4 linked regions of the Homo sapiens genome follow. The protein of the gene in region 2 interacts with the protein of the main gene of each other region in a pairwise test. Each region holds a gene or a part of one and is shown on either strand. Other genes may lie near its edges.

Region 1 (4,282 bases), on a different chromosome or scaffold from region 2:
CCCCAATGGCAATCAAGGAGAAAAGGCAGAGAGAAGCAAAAATACACCACACTCTAGTTTGCAATCCAAACACTCATTCCTTCGGGGGCATGCAAGATTTAGTGCTGGGGTAGATAGAGGAAAGGTGGCAATGCCTTACAAAAACCTAATTCCCCAGGCTCCTGGGCCTCCCCAAAGATGTCTGAAACCAGCATCTTTTTCTGGCCTGCAGAAGCTCAACGAATAGCACCATGAACAGAGAAAAATTAGATGGACCTTGGGGAATTGGTCAAGGACCTTTTTAAAAAAAAAAAAAACTATTAAAATGAGATTGTATTCTTTCTGTACATTTCATCTGAAAATTTTGGAGCCTTGAGTGTATGGCAAGGTGGTAATGCCAGCTAGAAGGTATCGACTTATGTGAACTCATGTCCCTAAACTGTCAAAGTGATTCAGACAGCATGAGTGAGGGTAAGAAATGTAGGAGCAGATCCACAGTGATTGATATTTATTTGTGGAATGGCAAGGAGAGAAGGGTATCAGACACGCCCTCTAGAACAAGTTCCTCAGCAGAGGTGGATGGGGTTCTGACAGTGTGGCAGAGTCTAAGTAGCTAGCTAGGAGTAGGTAAGGGGAGTGAGGTACATGAGGAGGGACAGAGTGCAAAGCAGAGCTGTTCCATCTGAAGGACAAGACAAAGGGCAGGGGGAGCTGAGGGCCAATGGAGGAGATCCCAGGTCAAAATCAAATCTTACTCCTCTTCTCAGCCCCACTGTCCCCTGCACCATCCCACATACCAGTTTCTTTGAAGAATCTAGGAAAAGTTGAAATAAAATGACTGGGGCAAGTGAAGAGCTGCTTAAGATTAAAAAGCTGGAGTAAGACAAGTGGGGAGACAAGATTTCTGTTAGGGGAACTATGCATTGAAAGAGGGGCCTGACGCTGAAATGGGGGTGCTGTCTCTACCTGGTCCCAAGGTCTGAAATGCTGGAAGACATTTGGAAGGTATGTGGAATGAAGAGCAGCACAAAGAGAAAGGTCAGGGACAGATGTGTTTGGGAAGGTGAAATGATTCCTGCTTCCAGGTATGTGTGTGTGAAAGGCTAGCTGTTCTTTTCCATCCTCATATCTAGTCTTAGAGCCCATTTGAGAGATGAAGTATGTGTGAGTTTGGAGGTGGGAATGGGGATCCTGAGTGTGTACCTGGGGTCCCAGTGAGATAATTGAGGTCTGGGGAAAAAAAGAGCCAGAAATCCCTGACGGTTCTTGTGTTCTGATTCCTGCTGGAGGGGGTAAAGTGTGAGAGGGGTATGGTGGTCTTGGTCTTTAGTTCTAAGAGACAGAGAGGAATAGGGACAGCAGTGAGGGGTGGGGGAAAGGGGATACTTGTCTAAGTGCTCAGAATGTACAAAGCAAGTTTGAAGAGAGGTCCCTAAAGCTATGTCAGGAGGGGAGAATTAAGACTCTATTTGAGAAGCTAAAAAAAATGATTAGAGGAGTTGAGAACTGAAGCAGTCAAAAAGGAGAGGAAGGGTGAAATCTCATGGCAAGATGCAATAGGTGGGGTGGTCTGTTTCCCATGGCTAGTCTTGGTTCTGAGAGTGAGAGAACAGTGACAGTGAGGGGCAGGCATGGAGGCAGGCCCACTTCTCCCAGGAAGCAGATGTCTAGGATGATGTGGATGTTGGGGATGAGGGTCACAGGGAAGAGACAGGAAAGAAAGAAGAATGCCAGAGCAAAGAATTAGTGAGGTGGGTTGGGTCCAGCAGTCCTAGAACTCTGTGGGGATGACAACGACGTCCCTAGCTGTAAGAGGTGGAGCCTGGGGATGGGAGAAGAGGGGCTGGCCCTATGGGGACAACTATGAGGAGAAAATCTTATATGACCCTCACACCCAGGGTGTATGTGTGTACGACTCTGGGGGTGATTGCTTCCTAGAGCTTGAGTTGGGGATGGCAGTAGCGAGTGGACTATGCTGGGCCCTTCAGTAAAGGGTGAAAGGCGTGTGAACTCTCTGGGCCCATGCTAACGGGTGAAAAAAGGGCCCTGGCCTGGGGCTGAGTAGGTCAAAGCTCACTCCTGTACCTGTGCTTGGATCCAGATGTTTGGTGGAGGCTCTACTGTGGTATGAGGGCGGAACTGAGTCAGTCCCCTCACCCCGAGGCTGGGTGGTAAGGAGTTCAGACGGGATCAGGTGGGTGAGAAGTGCTCTGGGGAGCTAAACTCCTGTCTAGATTCTTTGCCATTCTATGGAATGCTAGATCCACACAGTCCTGGCCTGAGAGGCTGCCAGGCTGTGTTGAAGCGAGTGTCCGCCCTTGAGTTTACAAATCATGTTGTGCCAGCTGTGCCGTGAGGGACTCTGGGCTGGGATGGGGCAGGTGAGCAACCTCCGACCCGCAGGTTTTACCAACGCTGCCATCTGCCCCAGACCCTGCACTGGGAGAAGCGGGGAAATCGGGCGCTCTGGACCAGGCCTCCGGTACTCTGAGTTTGGGCAGAAGACAGTTCCCTCCTCCACCCTGGCCGGCTCCGTGGCGTACCTGGTCACCGACACCCAAGCCGAAGTAACCGTGTGTCACCACTTCCCAATGCAAGAAGCAGACGAGCGCGTCCTGCCTGCAGGTGATGGCCGGCGCTGCCGATGCGAACAGTACCTCCAGGCCCGCCATGAGCGCCCGCGACTTCGGCGTCTGGAGGAAAGAAGGGGGCGGGGGTAGTGCAGTGAGCCGGCTCCGCGGCCGGGGTAGCTATAACTCTGCTTCCCTCTTGCGCTGGTTCTTGCCGAGTCCACACCTGAGACCAAAATGGAGACGCCCGGGGACGGGGCGGGGCGGGGAAGCCGGAAGTAGTCCCAACAGCGGGCGCAACTGCGTGAGGCGCGCCGGGTTGGCAACGCGAGCGCAGCACTGAAAGGTTCCGCCAGGGAGTGCGAGCGGGGCGTGGCCCCTCAAAGCCGGAAGCCGGGTCTTGGCGGCAGTCGACAGGATCGCCTGACGCGGGCACAGCGTCCTCCAAGAGGCCACCTTGCTGAGAGGCAGACTTCCCATCCACAAAATGGGGTATGCTAGGCCGGGGAAGGGGCTGGGAAATGTGGCTAAAATACATTCTTAATAATCGTTAACACGTTCGCCGTGCTTGCTACCGTCCACATTATTCTAAACGCTTTACTTGTATTCATTTATTTAATCTTCACAACCCAACTCTATGCAGTTGATATTAACGATTAATGTGCCTCATTGCACAGATGAGGAAACTGAGGCGCAGAGGGATAATTTGACCAAGATGACAACAGCCAGCCGGTGAACGGCTGAAATGGTTATGGGAACCTGGCAGTCTGGCTTCTAAGATAACATTTATTAAGTGTTTATTGTGTGCTACATCGTGCGCTAAAACCTTTACATCACCCTCTCAACAACTCTATGAAGTATGGACCGTTATTATCCCCATTTTGCAGATGACAAAACGGCTCAGAGTTGAAACCACTTCTCCAAGGAGACACAACTGCTGCCCGCAGAGCTGAAGCTCCTGACCCACTATCAAATTTCAATCATTTATTTGCCTACCCCCTTTATGATTTTTACCACCCGTTACTTCAACAAGTTTCATGAAATCCACTTATTGTTTTTACCCAAATAAATTTAGTTTCCCCATCCCAGTCACTAACCTGGTTCAAGCTCCTGTCATCTTTCACTTGGATGCCTGGCATCAGCCTCAGAACTGCCCCATTCCATTCCTGTCTCTCTCTAGTCTGTACTGCACTCCGCAACCAGAGAGATTCTGTTAGAAAACAAGTCAGATCGGCCAGGTGTGGCGGCTCATGCCTGTAATCCCAGCACTTTGTGAGGCCGAGGCAGGCGGATCACTTGAGGTCAGGAGTTTGAGACCAGCCTGGCCAACATGGTGAAACCCTGTCTCTACTAAAAATACAAAAATTAGCTGGGTGTGGTGGCGCACGCCTTTAGTCCCAGGTACTCGGGAGGCTGAGGCATGAGAATCAATCGAACCCGGGAGGTGGAGGTGGAGGTTGCAGTGAGCCAAGATCGCACCATTGCACTTCAGCCTGGGCAACAGAGCGATCTTCTGTCTCAAAAAAGAAAAAAAAAAAAAAAGAAAAGTCAGATCACATCCGTTGGCTCAAAATCGTCACACTCAATGGAAAAGTAAAGTCCTCCCCATGGTCTGCAGGAATCTGCATGTGGTCTGCCATCTCCTGCCCCAGCCCTGCCAGCCCTGTACCTCTCTGATTCAGTCTCCTTCAACTGTCCTCTCATCCCCTTTATACGTGCAATAACCTTGGCTC
Region 2 (3,564 bases):
GTCCTGAGCCTCTGAGTAATCTTGGTACTCCGTATTTTTCACTTAACTCTTCCATGATACTTTCTTTTTCTTCATCATTTCTAGTGGCGATTAGACATGTTTGAATGGAGGGATCTAACGGAGAAAAATCACACCTCTAAAAGTCAGTGTATTAAAGATGTGAAGAGACAGAAGGCTTTGTAACAAACTGGTGATATAAGTGGGTAAGCTATGGTCATGAATACATTAAAATTGCCCTGAAACGCACTTACTGAGTTTTATTTCCTGAACAATTGGAAAAGATACATTCTTATTATAAATTATGAGTTACTGTCAAAATAATTCAAAGCATTGTTTTAATATAGTTTATCCTAAGACCATTAGAACAATTCTGAAAATTAATGGAGTTTATTTTGGTATGATTACCCTACAACAGTAATTCTTAACTGGAGTGATTTTGCCTCCCAGGAGACATTTGGTAACATGGAGACAATTTTTGGCTGTCACTATTTGGAAGGGGTACTATAGGTATCTTGCAGGTAGAAGTCAGGGATGCGGCCGGGCGCGGTGGCTCACGCCTGTAATCCAGCACTTTGGGAGGCCGAGGTGGGCGGATCACGAGGCCAGGAGATCAAGACCGTCCTGGCTAACACGGTGAAAAACCCATCTCTACTAAAAATACAAAAAATAAAATAAAATAAAATAAAATAAAATAAAATAAAATAATTAGCCGGGCGTGGTGGCAGGCACCTGTAGCTCCAGCTACTCAGGAGGCTGAGGCAGGAGAATGGCGTGAACCCAGGAGGCGGAGCTTGCAGTGAGCCGAGACAGCGCCACTGCACTCCAGCCTGGGCGACAGAGCGAGACTCCGTCTCAAAAAAAAAAAAAAAGGCAGGGATGCTACTAACATCCTACCATGCACAGGACAGGCTCCACAAACAAAGCAAAATCAATGAGAGTAACTTTTTACTCTCAAAAGTATTACTGTTTGGATGACAGAGTTGATGATCACTCTGCTGAAATGGAATAAATTTCTGGAAAGAGAAATAGTAAAAATAATTACGGTCAGAAAATGTGAGCCAACAATCTTGCACCACCATTTGTGTGATATAGACTAAGTTCATTTCTCTGTGCTTTGGCTCCTAACCAGCAGAATGGGCGTAAATACTAATATTATTTATTGGCATTGTTGTGAAAATCAAAGAAGATAATATGTGCATGAAAGAACTTTGACAATGATGAAGTGCCATGCAAATATCCAGCTATTAATAAGAGAAAACTATGAAAGGATGACATTTTAAGGAATGTGTAGGAAGTTTTTCATGAATAGAAATCTTTCTTCAAACCAATATATCCTTCACTCTAACTTTTGAATAAAGTATATATGTGTTAATATTTCATGCTTATTAAAGATTGGATTATATTTATAAAAAACTGAAATCAGGCCTACGAAACAGTTACCTTTGGAATGTCTGTTGAAGAATTTCAAGATTAAATACCTAGTCTCCTTAGCAAGCTGATCATGATCACTTTGCCTTCGCTTAGCAGCAACCCCAACTATATCGCCTCACTTTCTGGGGAACTTGTAATTGCCACTTCTCCTTCCTTCTTCTCCCTGTTCTCTTCTTATTTCTCCTCCTCCTGCTTCTTTGTCTTCTTCCTGTGGTGCTCTTTTCCATGTGAGGGACCCCTTTAGCCAAGTCCATCCATTCCTCCTACTAACCATCTATCCAATCATTCATCCAGTACATCCTCACTGAGCATTTGCCATGGAAGTGTTAGCATTTTGTTAGGTGCTAAGAAGATGAGTAAAAACATATATATTCCGTGCCCTAAAAAACTTATAGCTTAGAGGGAGAAGGGACAGATATCAATTACAAAATAATAAATATAAAAATACAATTGAAAAGAAGATACTTGCTAGAAAGTGAAGTAAAACACTCCAGCTAGCTTTGAGGGACACAAGTAGGTTTCACTAAAGTACTGAAATTTCATTTGAGATCTGAAGAATGATTAGCCAGGCAAAAGGGATTAAGTGGGGAAGTAGGGTGAGGTGGTGCAGAGCTTCATAGGGAAGAACTTTCTGAGCAGTCAAGATAGCATGTGCACAGGCCCTGTTGGGCGATAGAACACAAGTTGTTCAAAGAACTGAAAGAAGTGAATGTAGTTGTAGCTCTAAGCAAGGCTGATGGGGCTATGATGTGAGTCTGCAGGTGACAAAGAAACAAATGAGGTAGAAACTTGTAGCCCACAGCAAAGGTTTCATTCTTTTTTCTGAGAACAATGAGAAATCCCTGAAAGTTTTAAAAGACAGTGACATGATTAGATTTGCATTTTGAAAAGATCACTCTGGATGCAAAACAGTTGGGGATGAAAAGACATTTGAAATCCATTGCTCTCAGCACATGCTTGACGGGAATTGTTACAAGCATTTGAATGTTCTCTTCTTTGTTCTTATATCTCTCTCAAACATCTTCCTCTCTACTAAGACAATTCCATTACTTCCTTCAGGATCTAGTTAAGTATATTCACCATATTTACTTTAAAATTTACCATCCCTATTCATCATGTTCCCACTTTGAATTCTTTCTGCATTTGCAAGACACTTACAATGTGATACAATTAATTTAATTCTCTGCTTTATATATTCTTTTCCTAAAGCACACTTTGCTTCTTAAGGACAGGGGCCTGCATATGGGTTTCAGAACAAAAATGATTGCTCTAGATAAATTATTTTTCAGTGTTTGGTTCCTCCTACTATCCACAGCTGGCTTCTCAAGTTCATAAATTGTATCTTTTACAAGCATTGTAACAGTAAAATAATCCGAATATAAAGAAAGACATTGCAAATGTTTATTTATAGCATGTCTGTAATCAAGCCAATGTAATCAATAGATACATAAAATTGGCACTGTCTAGTCTTAGTCTCTAACCTCTGCATAACATTTTGTGTAAAAGGACACTTCGTATGTGACTACTCATAAAAATTGTCTCTATTAAGCATTTAAAATGTTTTTATCTCGCATATAATGTGTTTGAGGAAAAAAGTTCTAATGACTACACTTAGATTGAAAAATGCAATAAATATTTCCAATATTAACAAACTTAGAATTCAAACTCAATTAAATATTAAGAGGATATGTTAAATTTCACCTGCTTATATTTAAATTGTATTAAAATCAATTAAATAACCAAATATAGACGTAAAGTTTTATGAGGATTTTTACATTATAGGAATTGTGATTTAAAAAAATTCTGAATAATGAATAATTTCATAGATAGATTCTGACATTTTAGGAATCCCTAAGTAATATGAGTCAAAATGCAATCTTTTTTGTTTTTCCACAGAGGTTTTAGCAGTCTTCTATTATATATCAAAGACAGAAGCTAAGAATAAACATGGATACCCTCTATCATGGTGCGAAAGACGTGCCAAACAACTGGAAATGTATAAGAAAGTAAATTAAATTATGGCCAAGTTATCTATAGTCTTCATAAAACTTTAAGAACTGACATTAGAGTGTTTAATTTTTCCTGGTACTACTGATGTTTAATTTTTAATCTCTAAATCATATATAAATATTT
Region 3 (4,289 bases), on a different chromosome or scaffold from region 2:
CCTCCCACTGGGACTCCTCAGGCCTTGCTGCAGTCAGCTGGTTACCTGTCCATGCCTGCTTTGAGAGGGACATGCCCCATGCCCACTGAGGGTAGGACCCACATCTCATGCAGTGCCAGTACTCAGTAAAGGGCAAACACTGAGGGCCTGTAACCCTCTGGATAGTGACAACATAGAGGCAGGAAGCAAGGGACTTCAGGAACCCAAAGGAAACTGGGAAAACCAAACCTCCTTTCTCAATGGAGAACCTGCTGGTCGCTGTCCTCGGGGAGCTAGACTCTTGTGCACACACAATTCCTCATCAGAAACAGGCAAAGAGGGCACTGGGCCTCCCCTGCTGCAGCTGTGTCCACAGAGAACAGCTAGGCCACCACACAACCCCAAGCCTGGCCCTGCCTCCAGCCTCCTCCTGTGCCAACCAAGGCCTCACCATGGCTCAATCCACATGGCCCCCAGAGGCAGCAGTCCTGGTTCAAATTCAGGATCTGCCCTTGCTAGCTGCATGGGTGAGTTCTTTCACTTCTCTGTCCCTGTTTCCTAATGTGTAACACAGGAATAAGCAGTGGCCTCTTCCTTCCAGGGTTTGCTGCAACTGTGCCTGAAGCTCTGTGACAATGCACCCCCCATCTCTGCAAAAGCAAACCCCCAAAGGCCTGGTTTCTAAAGCAACAGCAGTTTCAGCAGCACCGTCAGAGAGGCACTTCAGGCCAATCCTGGAGGAGCCAGGAGTGACCCTTAGAGTGGGCCCCAGGGACGTCAGCCTTCTTGGAAAACAGCTCAAGGGGTGAGGGGGCCTCCCTCCTCCTGCCTCCCCCTTCTCCCACTCCCAAAGCAGCCAGGTCCCTAGGGAGGGTCAGAGAACAGATGCTGGGAGTTTCCAGTCCCCCTAACCAGAGGGGGTCACAAGGAAGATGTGCAGAATGAACATCCTGGGAAACTGGGAAATGACTAGGGAGGAACATGGTGCCTCCCCGCCAGCAAAAAAAATTATACCCTTCCCCATGAGATGGAGTGTCAGCAAGCTTCCAGGCCCCAGCCCAGGGTGCAGGAAGAGGAGCTACACCCATTCACCTCTGGTCAGCATGCTCCCAACGTCTGAGACCTCATTTCTCATTCCTTCTTCAGTCCCCATTCTCATTGTGGTTCGAGGTCTTTCTCTCTGAGCCAGGAACTCCGCAACCTTCCACCCTCCCTACCTCTTCCTCTCCTACCCCAGCCTGGGGCTCAGTCCTGGCTCAAGCACTCAGTCCAGCAGAAGCACTGTGTAGCCTCCCATTAAAGCTCACGCCTGTGAAAAGAACAGCCATTGAGGCCTTGAGATGGGGCCACACTGACCCGCTGACTCTCAGGACTGGACACAGCAGAGGCCACACATACTCAGAACAAAGCCTGGAAAGGCAAGGCTGGAGGTCAGTAGTTGTGGCAGCTTCACATCAACTCAGCTTTAATGTGATTTAATTTCCTTCTCCCTCCAGTGGGCCAAAGGTGCAAAGATAAGTATGGCTGTTCTCTCTCCTTCTAACAGTGAGGTGCTGGGGGTGGGGGTGGGGGAATATGGAGAAGGGACCCTCACCACCCACACCTTCCTGCCTCCCCAACAAGTGCTGCCCTCCTCTGCCCAGCATTCTCCCCACTTTGCCCTCAGCTAGTGGGTGCTTAGCCTCCAGATAGCATGCCCCACCTAGGCCCTGCCCTGGGCCTGTGATCCAGAGGTCCCAAGAAGCAGAGGCCAGGCTGGATCCAGGGGGTCAGCCAAGGTGAGGGTGGGAGCACACAGGATTATCTCCCAGGGACAGGGCTGCTGCCTCGTAGCTCAGGATGGATAGAATGTGGGGGGATATCCAGCTACATTTTCCCTCCACAAAAGACCAGAATGGGAGAGGGATGGGGTGCTGCCCCGACTTTCTTCAACTCCCCGGAGCAGAAAAATGCCCTACCTCCACTTTCCAGTGCCAAGATTCAAGAAGAAAGGCAAGCGGAGACTTCCCTTTCTCAGTCCCTGCTTACTAATGGAAACACGGGTCCAGAACCTAAATCCAGTCCCTCCTCCTTCATACCACCGGGAGGGAGGTGCAGCCCAAGCCCCCGAGGCCCCAAGGGTCCAGGTGTAGGACCCTTTATCCTCTCCGGCAGCCATCCCTGTGGGTGTGGCACCCCCGCCACACCCCATTCTTGTCATCTCAGGGGGAGGGGGGAAATGTAATCGGACATCCCCCCCATCCAATCCATCCTGAGCTGCGAGGCGGCGGCTCTGTCCCTCGGAGATAATCCTGTGCACTCCCCACCTTCACTCACCTCGGCTGACGCAGGAGTCTCCGGAGCCCGCACTCCCAGACATCACTGCCCTCCTTCCTGAGGGTGCTGAGGCTCGGAGGCTCAGAGATGCTACTGGTCCAAGGTCATGCAGCGAGGCAGCGGCAATGAACAGGGTCGTGGGGAGGAGGGGGCGCTGACCCCATTACGCCCCCGCCCTCACTACCGCACTCATGCCCCCGGACAATCGCTTCGCGGAAAACACCCCAGCTGCACCAGCTAACGGTCACTGCGCCCCGGGAACCTGACATCACTCTAGTTCAGGTGCTGGGGAGTCCTCCAGGCCCGGCCCCGACAGCGGAGCCCCCCACCCCAGCCCTGCCATCACGGCCGCTGGGGTCCCAGGCACTGACTGCTCAGGACAGGGCCGGGACCGGGAGGGGACCTCGGCGAACGGGAAGGAACCGGGAGGCAGGGAGCAGAGGGGTGGCCTCACCTTGCGGGGTGCACCCCGGGGCCGGGGAGGGCAGGGACGACCACTGCAGCGGCGGCGGCTGCAGGAGCTCAACGCCGAGCACGAGGAAGGGAGCCCCGCGCCGCGGCCGCCCTCCCGTCGGCACGCCCCCGCCTCCGCCCATTGGTTGATCTGGGAGGGTGGGGCGAGGGACGCTCCGGACCAATGAGCGGGCTCCAAAGAACGGCCAACTGGCGAGGGCCGCCTACGTCACGTGCCAGGGTCGCCGAGGCAGCGCCCTGCTAGTCCGCGCCTGCCGGGCGAGCTCTCGCGAGGAAGACGGGCAGGCGGCCCAACTAGGCCAGGGGCCAGAACCGACCACTCGAAGAGGGAGAAGGAGGGCCTCGGATAGGCCCCGCCCCCGCTCCTTCTTCCGCCTGGGGGATAGCGCCTCTAGCCTTGAACCTTGCTTAGGACGCACCTCCCTTGGGCCCTTCGCTCTCGGGAGGGCTGTCGGGCGCGTCTCGGGGCTGGGTGGAGCTCCCGAAGGTGGCCTTTCTCCCTGGGCTTCCACGCCGGCTTCGGCCATCGATACGGGCCGTGTTGGTCTCGTTCAGGAGCTGAGGAACCCTCCATCACTCCTGTTTCGACCCCAGGGTTTGGACCTCTTCCCCTTCCACCCCATCCCCTGTCTCGAAAGAAGCAACCCCCGTGCGGGCCCGAGACGCGTCCCGGGTGCCTGGCCCGGCCTGGAGAAGCATCAGAACAAAGAAGGCACGCGGGCTGGGGGCTGGGAGAGCCTGTGACGCGCCCCCGGGGACCGCAGCCTCTGCTCCCGGTCTCCATGGAGGCGGTCGCCATGGCAGCGAGATGCGCCTCGCTCAGCACCGCGGGGTGGGATGTGGGCGCCTGCAATGAGCCGAGGAGCGAGAGGCGTGGCCCTCCGGTCTGCGGGGGTTCTTGCCGGTGCTCTCCGCCCGCCGGTTCGCGAACACCCCACCTATACTTCGCCCGTGGGGACGGATTCCCCAAAGTGCCCTCAGTAAGCCGTCCGGAGCACGCAGCGCCTTGCTTCCAACGGAACTAGAGAGACGGCCTGGGCGGCCGAAGGCCAGCCTCCCTTCAGCAGGGCCGGGGTCGCTGCCTTAAAGGAGCCCTCAAGTCTGCCACCCTGTGGCCCATAACCTGTCTGCTGATCTCCAGTCTGCACACTGTTGGCAAATTAATCTTTCTGAGCTCTTGTTTTCATCGCGTCCCTCTCCTGCTCCAAAGCCCTCTGGGACTGCCTCCAGTAGCGCTTCACAAACTTCAGCAGCACTTTGGGTGACTCATGTGCCCTCGCGTTTGAGAGACAGCGCTTACATTGAGAGCTTTTCACATTCTGATCTCAGCCCATCCACTCCTGCCCACTCTACCCACTCCCACCACACTACCTTTAGACCTTGTCTTGAAAGTCTAAAGTTGGCAGACGGTGGGCCCAAAGTGGCCCGTAGGTGTATTTTGTTTAGCTCACATGGGGCTTTTTAAAAGAAGTCCTTCCCCCTCCTGCCTCCTCCGCCTCTTTCTGGAATCAGGAATCTGG
Region 4 (3,564 bases), on a different chromosome or scaffold from region 2:
GTTATCTGTTCTTCAATAGTGATGCCAGGCTGATAGGAAATGTGTGGCCTAATATTAATAAATTACCTGCCCTTACACTGTGACATTAATTTCTGAAAAATGCACTAAGTGTGATAACTATTCAACAAAATTCTAGGTAAAGTTGAAACAATGTATAAATTAATATTTTGGCACATTACTTTTGGCTTACCCAATTTGCTTAGCTCTTTATTCAGTACCTAATAGAAGTTACATGAACTGACACAATTAAATGTATTCCTGAAAGGACATATAGGTCAATACTAACTAATCAGAACTTTCCATCTAAATCAGCTCTGACAAGACCTGGGAAAGATGATCAATTCTCACTCACAAATAATGAGTTCAGGTTGTTATTTAATAGAATTGCATACACTAATCCTGGTACCAATAGTCTCCCCAGTTAATTTAAGCGTCAGGAATAATTTAGGATCCTCTAACAAAGGAAAATCAAGAAAGTGCTAATTCTAAATGTTCTCAACTCAAAACATCAGAACCCTGGAATACACTGTATTCATTAATAATACTGTCACCTACTATACTTTTAAAAGTCTAATTTCTTCAAAATAACGTATCTAAAAACAAACTAAAATCCAGCACATACCCTATTTTTATTTGATTCTATCAAGTATATGGGAAATAATTATTAAAAATTCACTTGAAAAAACTAAGCCTGTGTAAAAATAATCCCAAATTACTTTCAGCAAAAAAGCCTAACTAGCAATTATAAATTAATAAAACTAACGAAAACAGGGAGCGAAAAAAAGAAATGACAAAACCAACCCCTCCTCGCTGACCATCTACATGTATGGAACGGATGTGATCTGCCAGATCTGGGCTAGAGTTGAAGCAAGCCTGGCACTGGTCCCAACAACAATTATAGGCAATATTTTTGCTTGAAGAAGTAGTGCTTCCTTGTCCATTCATCATTGCTGGAGTTGAACGCCCACTGGAAATTGTGCTGTCTACATCCATTATAGTACTGCTTATGCTACAAAAGAAGAAAAAAGGCTGTGTTATTCCTAGAAATTCACTAACATGAATATGATCTTATAAATATTTAATTAAGATTACCACTTGACATTCTGCTCCATGTGAACAAAGCATAGTAACCATATTCTCCATGAGAAAACAACAATGCTTTTAAATTAATTAGTTGGCAATGAAGTACAAATCAAGACAGAAACACGACAGTACCTCAAAATCAGAAATGGAATAATTTAAGCAACTTTTGGCAGGCATGAACTCAATACTACATCTTACAGAAAACAAACCACACCCACACCCCCACACACACAGCTTATCACATCTCATCCCTTCTACAGTTCAAAGAAGCATAAGAAAGTAAGAGTTTCCAGCTGTAAATAATTCACAATCAAAGCATTATCTTTATAGCTCTGCAAATCACTTGTTGACCTGAAATCTCTTCTATTCATTAATCTGAAAATATAACTGCTGCCACATCCTACTTCTTTTCATGTCAAAGAATTGGGGAAATTTTGCAGTATTTTCCCAGCTAAATAAAAAAGCAGAAGAGAGAAAACTGGTCTCTGATTTTTCTAAAGTCCAAATAAAAAATCTTTTCCTAGCCCTAAAATTTTATTTTTTTAACTCATCTCTAGCCATAAAAAAAAAGACTGAAAATGCCAATCAATCCCTTTTACTTTTTATTTACTAAAGTATTACATATGGCTGGACGCAGTGGCTCACTCCTGTAATTCCAGCACTTTGGGAGGCCGAGGCGGGTGGACTACCTGATGCCAGGAGTTTGAAACCAGCCTGGCCAACATGGTGAAATCCCACTGCTACTAAAAATACAAAAAATTATCCGGGTGTGGTGGCAGGTGCCTGTAATCCCAGCTACTCAGGAGGCTGAGGCAGGAGAATCTCTTGAACCCAGGAGGCGGAGGTTGGAGTGAGCCGAGATCGCACCATTGCACTCCAACCTGGTCAACGAGCAAAACTCCGTCTCAAAAAATAAAATAAAATAAAATAAAGTATCACGCCATTGCACTCCAGCCTGGTCAACAAGAGCAAAACACCATCTCAAAAAATAAAATAAAGTATTACACAGTAGTAACTCTTTTATTTACTAAAAAAAGTATATACTAGTGGTCAAAATGCTCAAAAATTCACATCTTAATAAAATGTATCACACTTCCGCCTTCATTTTAAAAGCAATTCACTTATTTTCTTTTTTCAAAATCTTCTCAATAAATAAATTACATGAAAGTCACTTCAATCATAAGGGTCAAGAGAAAGAATGTTTTCAGATTAAATCTATGAAAAGGTGTGTATCTGCTTGCAATTTAAGAAACAACACAAGTCAAGTTGTGAAAATTATATTAACTTTAAAGAGGTATGTTTCCCTCCCGCCAAGTTTTTATCATGGAAAAGTTCAAAGACACAAAATACAGCTAAATCTGAATTCAATTAACATTTTACCCTATTTGCTATCTGTAATCTGTTTCTCTGAATCATTTTAAAATTGCAGGCATCATGACAATCAACCACAGTATATACCTTCTTAAAAAAAAAGAACATTCAGGCCGGGCACAGTGGCGCATGCCTGTAATCGCAGCACTTTGGGAGGCCGCAGCAGGCAGATCACAAGATCAGGAGATCGAGACCATCCTGGCTAACATGGTGAAACCCTGTCTCTACTAAAAATATAAAAAATTAGCCAGGCATGGTAGTGTGCGCCTGCAGTCCCAGCTACTCGGGAGACTGAGGCAGGAGAATGGTGTGAACCCAGGAGGCGGAGACTGCTGTGAGCAGAGATAGCGGCACTGGACTCCAACCTGGGCGACAGAGCTAGACTCTGTCTCAAAAAAAAAAAAAAACTTTCAGGCCGGGCGTGGTGGCTCACGCCTATAATCCCAGCACTCTGGGAGGCCGAGGTGGGTGGATCACAAGGTCAGGAGTTCAAGACCAGCCTGATCAAGATGGTGAAACCACATCTCTACTAAAAATACAAAAATCAGCTGGGCATGGTGGCACACGCCTGTAATCCCAGCTACTCGGGAGGCTGAGACAGAGAATTGCTTGAACCTGGGAGGAGGAGGTTGCAGTAGGAGGTTGCAGTGAGCCAAGGTAACGCCACTGCACTCGAGCCTGGGCGACAGAGCGAGACTCTGTCTCAAAAAACAAAAAGAACGTTCACCTATATACCAATACAACCTATTCACTCACACCTGAGAAAATTTACATGAATTTTGTTAGCTTAAGTAAGCTTTATAATGATCTGTGTCTAACATCAAATGTACCTATTGTGAGGGGTGGGGGGATGTTAAGACAGGGTCTTCACTCCGTTGCCAAGCCTATAGTGCGGTGGTGCTATCACGGCTCATTGCAGCCTTGACCTACCAGGCTCAAGTGATCCTCCCACCTCAGCCTCCTGAGTAGCCGGGCCTACAGGTGTGCACCACTATGGCCAACTAAATTTTTTAAATTTCTGTAGAGATGAGGTCTCTTTATGTTGTCCAGGCTGGGCTCAAGCAATCCTCCTGCCTTGGCCTCCCAAAGTACTGGGACTACAGGCATTAG

Evidence for each region.
Region 1: the proteins of RALYL (region 2) and PSMF1 interact in a two-hybrid assay, tested with the Homo sapiens proteins (one large-scale study listed by BioGRID and IntAct).
Region 3: the proteins of RALYL (region 2) and ADISSP interact in a two-hybrid assay, tested with the Homo sapiens proteins (one large-scale study listed by BioGRID and IntAct).
Region 4: the proteins of RALYL (region 2) and AEBP2 interact in a two-hybrid assay, tested with the Homo sapiens proteins (one large-scale study listed by BioGRID and IntAct).

The regions. Positions count from the first base shown.
Region 1 is NC_000020.11:1,117,143-1,121,424, reverse strand, and holds the start of PSMF1 (proteasome inhibitor PI31 subunit), read right to left. Parts: upstream 2,824-4,282; 5' UTR 2,652-2,823; coding exon 2,523-2,651; intron 1-2,522. UniProt on the Homo sapiens protein: Plays an important role in control of proteasome function. Inhibits the hydrolysis of protein and peptide substrates by the 20S proteasome. Also inhibits the activation of the proteasome by the proteasome regulatory proteins PA700 and PA28.
Region 2 is NC_000008.11:84,532,744-84,536,307, reverse strand, and holds part of RALYL (RNA-binding Raly-like protein), read right to left. Parts: intron 1-3,564.
Region 3 is NC_000020.11:3,764,914-3,769,202, forward strand, and holds the start of ADISSP (adipose-secreted signaling protein), read right to left. Parts: upstream 2,841-4,289; 5' UTR 2,750-2,840; exon of another isoform or gene 2,296-2,749; intron 1-2,295. UniProt on the Homo sapiens protein: Adipocyte-secreted protein (adipokine) that acts as a key regulator for white adipose tissue (WAT) thermogenesis and glucose homeostasis at least in part through activation of protein kinase A (PKA).
Region 4 is NC_000012.12:19,459,955-19,463,518, reverse strand, and holds part of AEBP2 (zinc finger protein AEBP2), read right to left. Parts: intron 1,010-3,564; coding exon 802-1,009; intron 1-801. UniProt on the Homo sapiens protein: Acts as an accessory subunit for the core Polycomb repressive complex 2 (PRC2), which mediates histone H3K27 (H3K27me3) trimethylation on chromatin leading to transcriptional repression of the affected target gene.